2 separate regions of the Homo sapiens genome follow, and region 2 is linked to region 1. Evidence: fine-mapped expression QTL. A gene starts in region 1. The other region holds a variant in brackets. All regions are shown on one strand. Distances are from middle to middle.

Region 1 (4,399 bases):
GATGTCACTCCCATAATTACATTCTATTATATGGCAAAAAAGGGTTTTGAAAATATAATTAAGGTGTCCAGTTAGTTGGCTGTGAATTAATCAAGAGTGAGATTATGTTGGGGTGAGCCTGACTTAATCAGGTGAGCAGTTAAAACAAAATAGAGATTCAAAGCCAAAGTCACTTTCCTGTTGGCTTTGAAGGAGAAAACTGCCATGTTGTGGAGAGGGCCACGTAGCAGAAAATGGCAAGAAGCCTCTAGGAGCTGTGAATGATCCCTCATTGATAGCCAGCAAGAAAGCAAAGACTTCAGTCCTACAACCACAGAAACGGAATTCTGCCAACAACCAAAAAGCCTGAAAATGATAACTGATAAGATTGTAGCCCTGGCCAACTTTTTTTTTTTTTTTTTTTTTTTTTTTTTTTTGAGATGGAGTCTCACACTGTTGCCTGGGCTGGAGTGCAATGGTGTGATGTCAGCTCACTGCAACCTCCGCCTCCTGGGTTCAAGCAATTCTCCTGCCTCAGCCTCCCAAGTAGCTGGGATTACAGGTGCCCTCCACCACACCCAGCTAACTTTTTGTATTTTTAGTAGAGACGGGTTTAAGCCATGTTGGCCAGGCTGGTCTCAACCTCCTGACCTCATGATCCGCCTGCCTTGGCCTCCCAAAGTGCTGGGATTACAGGCATGAGCCACCGCGCCTGGCCCATCCCTGGCCAATATCTTGATTTAAGCCTTGTGAGAGCTTGAGCAGAGGATCGGCTAATCCATGCCCATACTCCTGATTTGCAGAAACTGTGAGCCAGACAATGATGTTATTTTAAGTTGCTTAATCTGAGCGTGCAGCAATAGAAAATTAATATTTGCCTTTGCATGATGGAGCCCAGTTTACTCCTCAAATTCAAACTGCAAGAGCTTTGGGAGAATTACATTGTTAGCTTTCCATACTCTAAAATTCAATAAGACAAGTCAGAAGTGGTTGTTGTTTATATTAAGTGAGTCAATCCCTAGTGTCGTCCACCCACTTTTTTTGAAAATTATTTTCCAAAATATCTTTTACAGCCTATATGATAGGCTAAAAGATGTCATTTCATTTTTTGTTTGTGTAAAATGGCAAAGATCAACCTGTCCTGTGAATGAGTATTCAAGAAAAAGTAATTAACATTGCTATCAGCAATTTCCTTGTATGCATCAACCAGTTGGGTGAACTCATATAAATATTCCTGCTGATTTCTCTATTAAAAAATGCTTAGAGAATAGACAATTTAGGAGATTACTGCTACTCCAGGAGTGGCCACTTTAGCAGGACTGTTGACATGGAGACTTTCCATGACCTTACACACATGTTGATAAGAATGCCTGTGGCCTCTGGTTCTCATCAGTATTGAGTAGATTGATAATATTCTCAGTGGTCTTCTCATAGCGAGTCCAGCAAACCATCAACAAAGTAAAGCTAATAAGAGAGGGATTTTTTAAAATCTTTCAGCAGAGAAGCATTAGGGCAAGTTATATTTATCTGATCATGTACTACTATTTCTCCCAGGGAGTGTGAGAGGATGGGGAGCCGATAGTGTTCCATGAAAGTAGAAAAGTTTTCTGATTCACCACAAAGATGAATTTGTTTTCCACATAATGAATGTGTAGTATTTGATTCTCCCCACACTAAAGTGGTTCGGTTTATTTTTACATCAAGTAAATTTTAGCCATCTCCCTTGCTTTATTAATACTCTCTAACCCAATTTCCTTTCATTTCAAAACCACCAATGGTGAGGAAGGGTAAACAATAAGAACGACATGTAAGAAATTGTGGTATCCAAAAACAAAACGAAAAGCCCTATTTGCTTTACCTCATGTCGTAATTTCCCAGACTTGTTCCTCTTGGCAGTGTTGAGCTCCGCGTTTTCTCCCAGGGAGCAGAGCAACTTCTTACAAAACCTTACTTCGTGGGTTTTCCCAGGTGCCTGTTATTTCCTGAGCAGCACATAGTAGCAGTCCCTTAATCTTTACAGTTCTGAAAGTTGGCAAAGTGCCTTCAGAAAGTCTTGTCTTATTTCAATTGATTCCTTTGCAACAACCCAATAGGAGTCAGGACATGTATCATTATTTCCAGTTTATAAACAGCAGAAACTTCCATTTCTAGAGGTACATAACTGGCTTACACTATGATAAGCCACGACATGGAGATCAGAACCCAAGTCTTTGGAGTGTAAATGAGGCAGTCTTTCCCCAGGACTCCTGTCCTCTTACCAATACATCAGTGAATGGCTGGAAATAAAAATTTAATAGGCAATGACTTCCTGCTGTTCTCTAGTCTTGCCTACCCAAATCCTCTTCACACTCAGAAAATGCACATGAGACACTATTGACAAAACTAAGTACAAGTTTCGAAGCATTGACCTTTGAATAGGAAGGAAAAAGAAAAAAGAAATTTGCAAGCATAAATTTGTATACTGCTTACCTCATAAGTTTTACCCTTTTTCCTCCAGACCAACCATTTCTTATAGTCTGTTCCTAACTCCTCCTGGCTTCTGCCTAGACTTGCTGCTGACAGCCTTTTTTGTCTGAGTAAGTTGTATTTGCCCCTGCAGACTCTGCTCAGACTTTTCCCAGGCTGGTCAGGAGAGTCCTCTTCTGATCCAGTCTATTTCTCTTCTTATCAAATTATTAAAATTTCTGCTAAAGTGTACATAACCCTCTATAGGATATGAGCCCATTTACGTTTCTTATTTATCTTGCGTCCTCTGTATTTAACTCAGTGCAGGGAATTTCAGCACTGAAATGTCTGTGGAATTAGGATTTAATAAGCAATGGTTTTATTGGCTAGGAAATAGCGGCAAACAAAGGTGAGCCTCCAGAGGTGTAACTTCCCTATCCAAACTTTCTCTGTGGGGACTGAGAACCTAGGAAGGGAATGAGTCACCTCCTTTTACACGTTGCCATGAGTTGGTCTAGAGAGGGGAGTAGAACAGACGGAGTGAGGCCAAGGGTCCTAGGATATAAGGGTACACCTGTGGGTACTGTGGTGACCATGGAGGTGCCCCATTCAAATCTTCCTTCCAGAGGACCCGCAGCAGAGAAGAGAGCTGACTAACAGCCTTCTGATGCCCCACCTTTAAGCTGGTTGCAGCGTTCAAACCAGATGCTACTTTCCACGGGCTGCTCCCAGATAATGGCATAGTGCAGTGGGGATAATAGGACCAGGCCACCTCTGCCTGACACAGAACTCCTCTAATGAGAAGCTTCAGGTCTTGGAGCCGGGGGATCCTCACTGGCCTGGCAGAGACATTCTTAGAGCTGCACTGTGGTCTGAGGCTCCTCCCAACTCCGTCCTTCCTTCTTGCTCTCCTTTCTCAGACCCGCATCAGGGGCTGAAGGCCATCCCCGACACCTCATGCTCCCTGCCCGTTTTTCCTAATAAATCTCTTGCTCATCTAATCCCATTTTGACTGGGTCCTTTTTAGAGGACCCAGACTGACAGAGATACTTCAAGATTTAGGGCTAAAAGTGTATTTTTTAAATGCCACTCAAAATCTGTAGACCACTATCCAGAATTTAACAATGCCCTACTTAGTCTTGAGCTGTGTAGTAGTTTAGAGTTAGAGCTTAAAATACAAGATAGAAAAATAGGTTCTGCTTCTGCACATCTGAGGTACACACAGGCAAAGTGGAGGGGCAAAGGAGCCCAGGCTGGCCTGCCACTGGTGCAAGAAGGATCAGGCTGCTGTGGAATCCTGTGACAACTGGACTGTGGCCAAGTCATCGGGGTACCACATGGGTTGAGGAGCACGGAGCAGGCCTCTGACAGCCACAGAATATAAATAACACAGCTGCCTCCGCCACTAGCCAGCTGAGGAGAGCCACAGAGAAGAGGAGAGGGCAAGAATTAACTTGCGCATCAGCCCCTGAAATGGACTAACACTTCCATTGTTACCTTGTTTTTAAAATTTTAATTTGGTATTTTGGCCGGGTGTGGTGGCTCATGCCTGTAATCCTAGCACTTTGGGAGGCCAAGCTGGCAGATCACCTGAGGTCAGGGATTCGAGACCAGCCTGGCCAACATTGCGAAACCCTGTCTCTACTAAAAATTCAGAAATTAGCCTGGTGTGGTGGCACATGCCTGTAATCCCAGCTACTTGGGAGGCTGAGGCAGGAGAATCACCTGAACCCAGGAGGCGGAGGTTGCCGTGAGCCAAGATCACACCACTGAACTCCAGCCTGGGGGACAGAGCGAGAATCCATCTCGAAAAAAAAAATATATATATATATATATATATTTTTTTTTTTTTAATTGGGTATTTCAAACCACTTTATACGTTTGTTGTGTTTGTGGATATTCATACCAGAAATGTATGTAAATATGAGGGTTGTGACTTGGAAGCATTTTATTGTATGGGGAAATCTTTGAGATG
Region 2 (4,399 bases), 16 kb before region 1:
CAGTTCCAGGGCCACGATTCAAGCCAAGGTCCATCCGATACCAATTACTATGCTTCTGCCTTGGCCCTTCTGTCATTAATTCATGTGGTTCACTGTGAAAGTCATGGACTTCTTTAAACCTAGATTTCCCCTTATGACATGGTACAAGTAAGCCTAAAGTTAGATAAAATCATAGCCTATGATGAGCTAATTTAAGCTTCAATCTGTCTCTGTCACTAGCCAGTTCTGTGGAAATGGACAACTCAAGTAACTTCTCCAGGTCTCAGTGTTCCCATCTAAAAAGTGGGGTTGTAGTGGGCCTCTACAGCTCTTGACTTCTATGAGGCACACCGAGTCCTCACATGCCAACATAAAAAAGGAAATTTCAAAATTGTCTTTGTTTTTTAACAAAGTATATGAGGGGATTATTCCAGTTCTCTATGAATAATATATATATTTAAAGAGCCTATGTTTAAAAAATTAAAATGCTTTAAAACATTTTCTAGATGGCCTTACAAATGGAAAAAAAAAGTATTCCTAGCCAACCCTCTGTCAGCAGAAAGGCCACACAGAAAAAAGCAAATCACAATTCTTTACCCCTCTCAGCATAAATCATTACTCACCGTGGGAAAATGATTACTTGCCAGGAAGTAGAACCTATGAATCATTATACTGTTGTCCTCGACCTCTGATAGAGCAAGAATTAGGGGAAAGACTGAAAAGCTGGGGAGTGAACTCTGATTTGACAATAGTTCCACTCATGGCATCGTAAGGCAATGAAAACAGAAAGCTGATCGAGCCGTAGGGCTGTCAAGTCCCGGTGCTGCTGCAGTGCACGTCTGAACCCAGAGCAGAATGACATGGGCCCCTGACTTTCTGAGTCACTCCTTGGGTCTGAGTCTTCACAGCCCCAGAGTCATTTATCAGCAAATAGAAACAATGCCATCCCTGGGCTTGTCCCGACAGTCAACCTACTTGTTAATGCCTGTGTAAGAGATACCCAGCTTGGAAATAGGAGCAAAAGTCACAAGGAAGGGATTAAGTTGCCTAACATCAGCATTCATTTCCTAAAATAAAAACACATGAAAGATAGACACCACAAATATGTGTTCCCTTGTGGTATCAGCAAATATTGTGCTATAATTTCTCTACTGTTGCTAATAAGCTATGGCACACAACTGTAAATTCTTTTTTTTTTTTTTTTTTTTTGATACAGGATCTTGCTCTGCCATGCAGGCTAGAGTGCAGTGGCACAATAATGGCTCACTGAAGCCTCGACCTTTCAGGCTCAAGCAATCCTCCCACCTTGGCCTCCCAAATAGGTAGGATAGGGCAGGTGTGGTGGCTCATGCCTGTAATCCCAGCACTTTGGGAGTCTGAGGTGGGAGGATTGCTTGAAGCCAGGAGTTCAAGACCAAATAGCTAGCACTACAGGCATGAGCCGCCATGCCCAGCTAATTTTTGAGTCAGGGTCTCACTATGTTACTCAGGCTGGTCTCAAACTCCTGGGCTCAAGCGATCCTCCCACCTCTGCCTCCCAAAGTGTTGGGATTACAAGCATGGGAGCCACCTGTAGGTGGGTGAGGAGCAGTGATCCTCCCACCTCTGCCTCCCAAAGTGCTAGGATTACAGACATGGGAGCTACCACACCCAGCTTGCAAATACTTTTTATATTATGTTTTTCTACATGGCCTTTGATGTCTTTAGAAAATGTTTGTTTTAAGCAAGGATCTTTTTGTGACTAAAAGCACAGAAAAATACAACATAGTTAGTATGTTACACACCAAATATACAAAATCCTAGAAACTTATAGAAGGAGATAGGAAAATTGATCTTATAACTAATCTGAATATTGTTCTCTACTTTCCTTAATGTTTTTAAAGGTAGTGAAAGTAAAACTATATTGTTCTGATGATGTAGAAGGGAGAATGTTTAAAATTCCTCCCAGTTTCAGGAGGAGATATTAGAACCTGTCTTTATTATACTGCATTGATTAGAGGGAAGAGGGTATTACAGCCAAAGTGTTACCTAACCATTAGACTTTCACTGTATTTGATCCCACCTTCTTACTAGTTTAAATAAAATTTAAGCATGTACTACCATATATCTATGTTTTTATTTATGAATGACATAATCATTATTAATTTATTGTGAATAATATAAATCATTCATAAAAATTCATCTTTTTAAAGATTATATTTATTAATAATGATACATTTATATATTTTTATTATTCTCTTTTTCTGTACCTCAATAGATCATGTGCACCCCACTTTGGGACCACTGACCTTTTAGCTTGCTTGTCATGATAGAAGTCATCTACTAAAGGAACTCTGGAATGTTTGAGTCTCTAAATAATCTTGTTATAATCCAAAATAGCCTGTTAATTTCAAGATTGATCTTCAGGCGACTAAACTAAGCACTCATAAGAAATCACAAGGTAAAAGAGTTCAGGTCACTGTTTGGTTAGCTTACAAAGAGTTACTTCTATTTCCCTAAATGTTTTTGAATCACTGCCCTTTGGCT[C/T]TGAAGGGACAACTAAATATCATCTCATCAGTAATGCCATTTTCCCTCAAGTGTCTTTAACACAGAGCTGTTTCTCTAGAAGAGAACAAGGTTATATAAATGGGAGAGAACATGTCTCCCTCCAAGATAGTTATGCAACATGGGGAAGATTCCACAGAAGAGAGACAAGGCTGAACAGAGATGATGGTTCTTTTACTTGGACATGGTGATAACTTGAGTTTCTAGATAAACTTGAGTACTATTACTCAGTACTGGTACTGTTGGAAGAACACATAAAACGTCTGGCACAATCAGTGAAAGAAATATGGGCCTGGGTCCGGGTGTTAAATGGGTACAGGAAAGCACTAAACCTCTCACACTCACTCTACACCTACATGCCCCAAATCACAAAATTCCCCTACTTGAAGAGCGTACACTCCCCACTCAATTCACTTCCCATTTAAAAGTGTATTTGTTTGCTTTTCTAAAGATTCCTAGTGGGTTGGGGAAACTCACTAAACCACTATTAACACTTAGTGTGACCTTCAGGAAGAGGCCTCATGGACTAATAAATGTGCTAAGAGGATCTGAAATGTTGGTGATGGGGGTGTGGCAGAGAAGGAAGGATGAAAGGGAGAAACCCGTTTAGAAAGCCTATTGATTTCTAAGGGGGTAATGCTGGGGTGGGGGAAAGTAGTGAATAAATTATCTGACAGGCAAGCAACATCATTCACACTTTTGTTTAGAAATCATTCTAATGACAGCCACCCTAAATTTTGGTTCTATGTTGGGTTAGTTCCACAATCACTGAAATGAGGAAGTGAGCTCAACAATTTTGTAAACCTCAGAGTTGACAAGAAGTTATGAAAATTCCCAGTGGGGTTACATTAGACTCTAGCACTTACTTAAACAAGGAAAAGCAGGGAGATTCCATTGATGAATCATATCTAAGGGACAAGGGAGGCTGTAGGGTTTTCTCAGACAAAATGGGTCTTTACAAAATTGGAGAGAACCAAATGGAGTTAACAAGTTTGGAAGATACAGGTGTATTTCCCATAGAACATGAGAATGAACACTAAATGAGAAATTCTTGGAAACAAAGACTGATGCAAGAAGAATGCCTGGTTGGAAGTGAAAAAAGCAAGAGCAAAGATGCTGGTTCTGAGGCCAGAGGCAATGTTGGGGAAGGATCTTGGGACTGAGTCAGCTGGGACCAAGGAAGAGCCAACCATACCTGGATGGATTTAAGGAATGCTAAGACAGGTCCAAAGTTGGAGAGAAGAGGTAACCAGAGAGCCTGAGGACAGGGCCAGACACTGTAATACCAAATTCCTTACAGAATCAGCAGGGTAGCACAATGTCTCCAGGGCAGGAGAGATGACCTTGCCAGAGGTATTTTGATGGTAGAGGCTGAAGGAGACAGAGATTAAGTGTACCGAGAAGAAGTACATTTATGGGAGACTAACATAGATGAAAATTTCTTGTAAAGTTTTTTCCTGTTGAACACATCTGCTATAAAGGCTTTGGCATCAAATTTTGTATGATACAAAAATCATAACAGCACTGAAGTGACTAATAAATGTGTAATGTCAAACCTAATGTGAGCATAAAAAACTTTGAACACCTTAGATGGTAATTTGGAAGGTTCTAATTGCACCTTGACAACAAAACATAAACATTAGAGTCTACATGATGTCAAAACATCTGAATGGAAAAAGAAAAATAAGCATCTTTTTCTGCAAAGCCCAAACATTTGTATATTTTGGAAGACTAAATATATATTTGATAAAACCACAGTATATAAAGTCAAGGCATTTTATGATCTTCCTGGATGTAATTATTTTCCATGACTTTGTGTAATCATGGTAAAATAGTGATAGTTCAATAACTGATAACTAACTATAATAATAATTAA

What was found.
Region 2: its variant is fine-mapped to the expression of LINC02541 in sun-exposed skin (GTEx, PIP 0.94).

The regions. Positions count from the first base shown.
Region 1 is chr6:113,647,567-113,651,965 of GRCh38, forward strand. LINC02541 (long intergenic non-protein coding RNA 2541) reads right to left here and starts at 2,509. Exons shown (of 3, transcript NR_125844.1): 1 at 2,449-2,509.
Region 2 is chr6:113,631,698-113,636,096 of GRCh38, forward strand. The region is part of intron 1 of LINC02541 (long intergenic non-protein coding RNA 2541); the gene reads right to left. Among named protein-coding and RNA genes, the nearest start is that of LINC02541, 16 kb to the right of the region's middle. RefSeq lists enhancers at 609-658, 3,224-3,273. The variant C/T (reference allele first, on the strand shown) is at 2,506.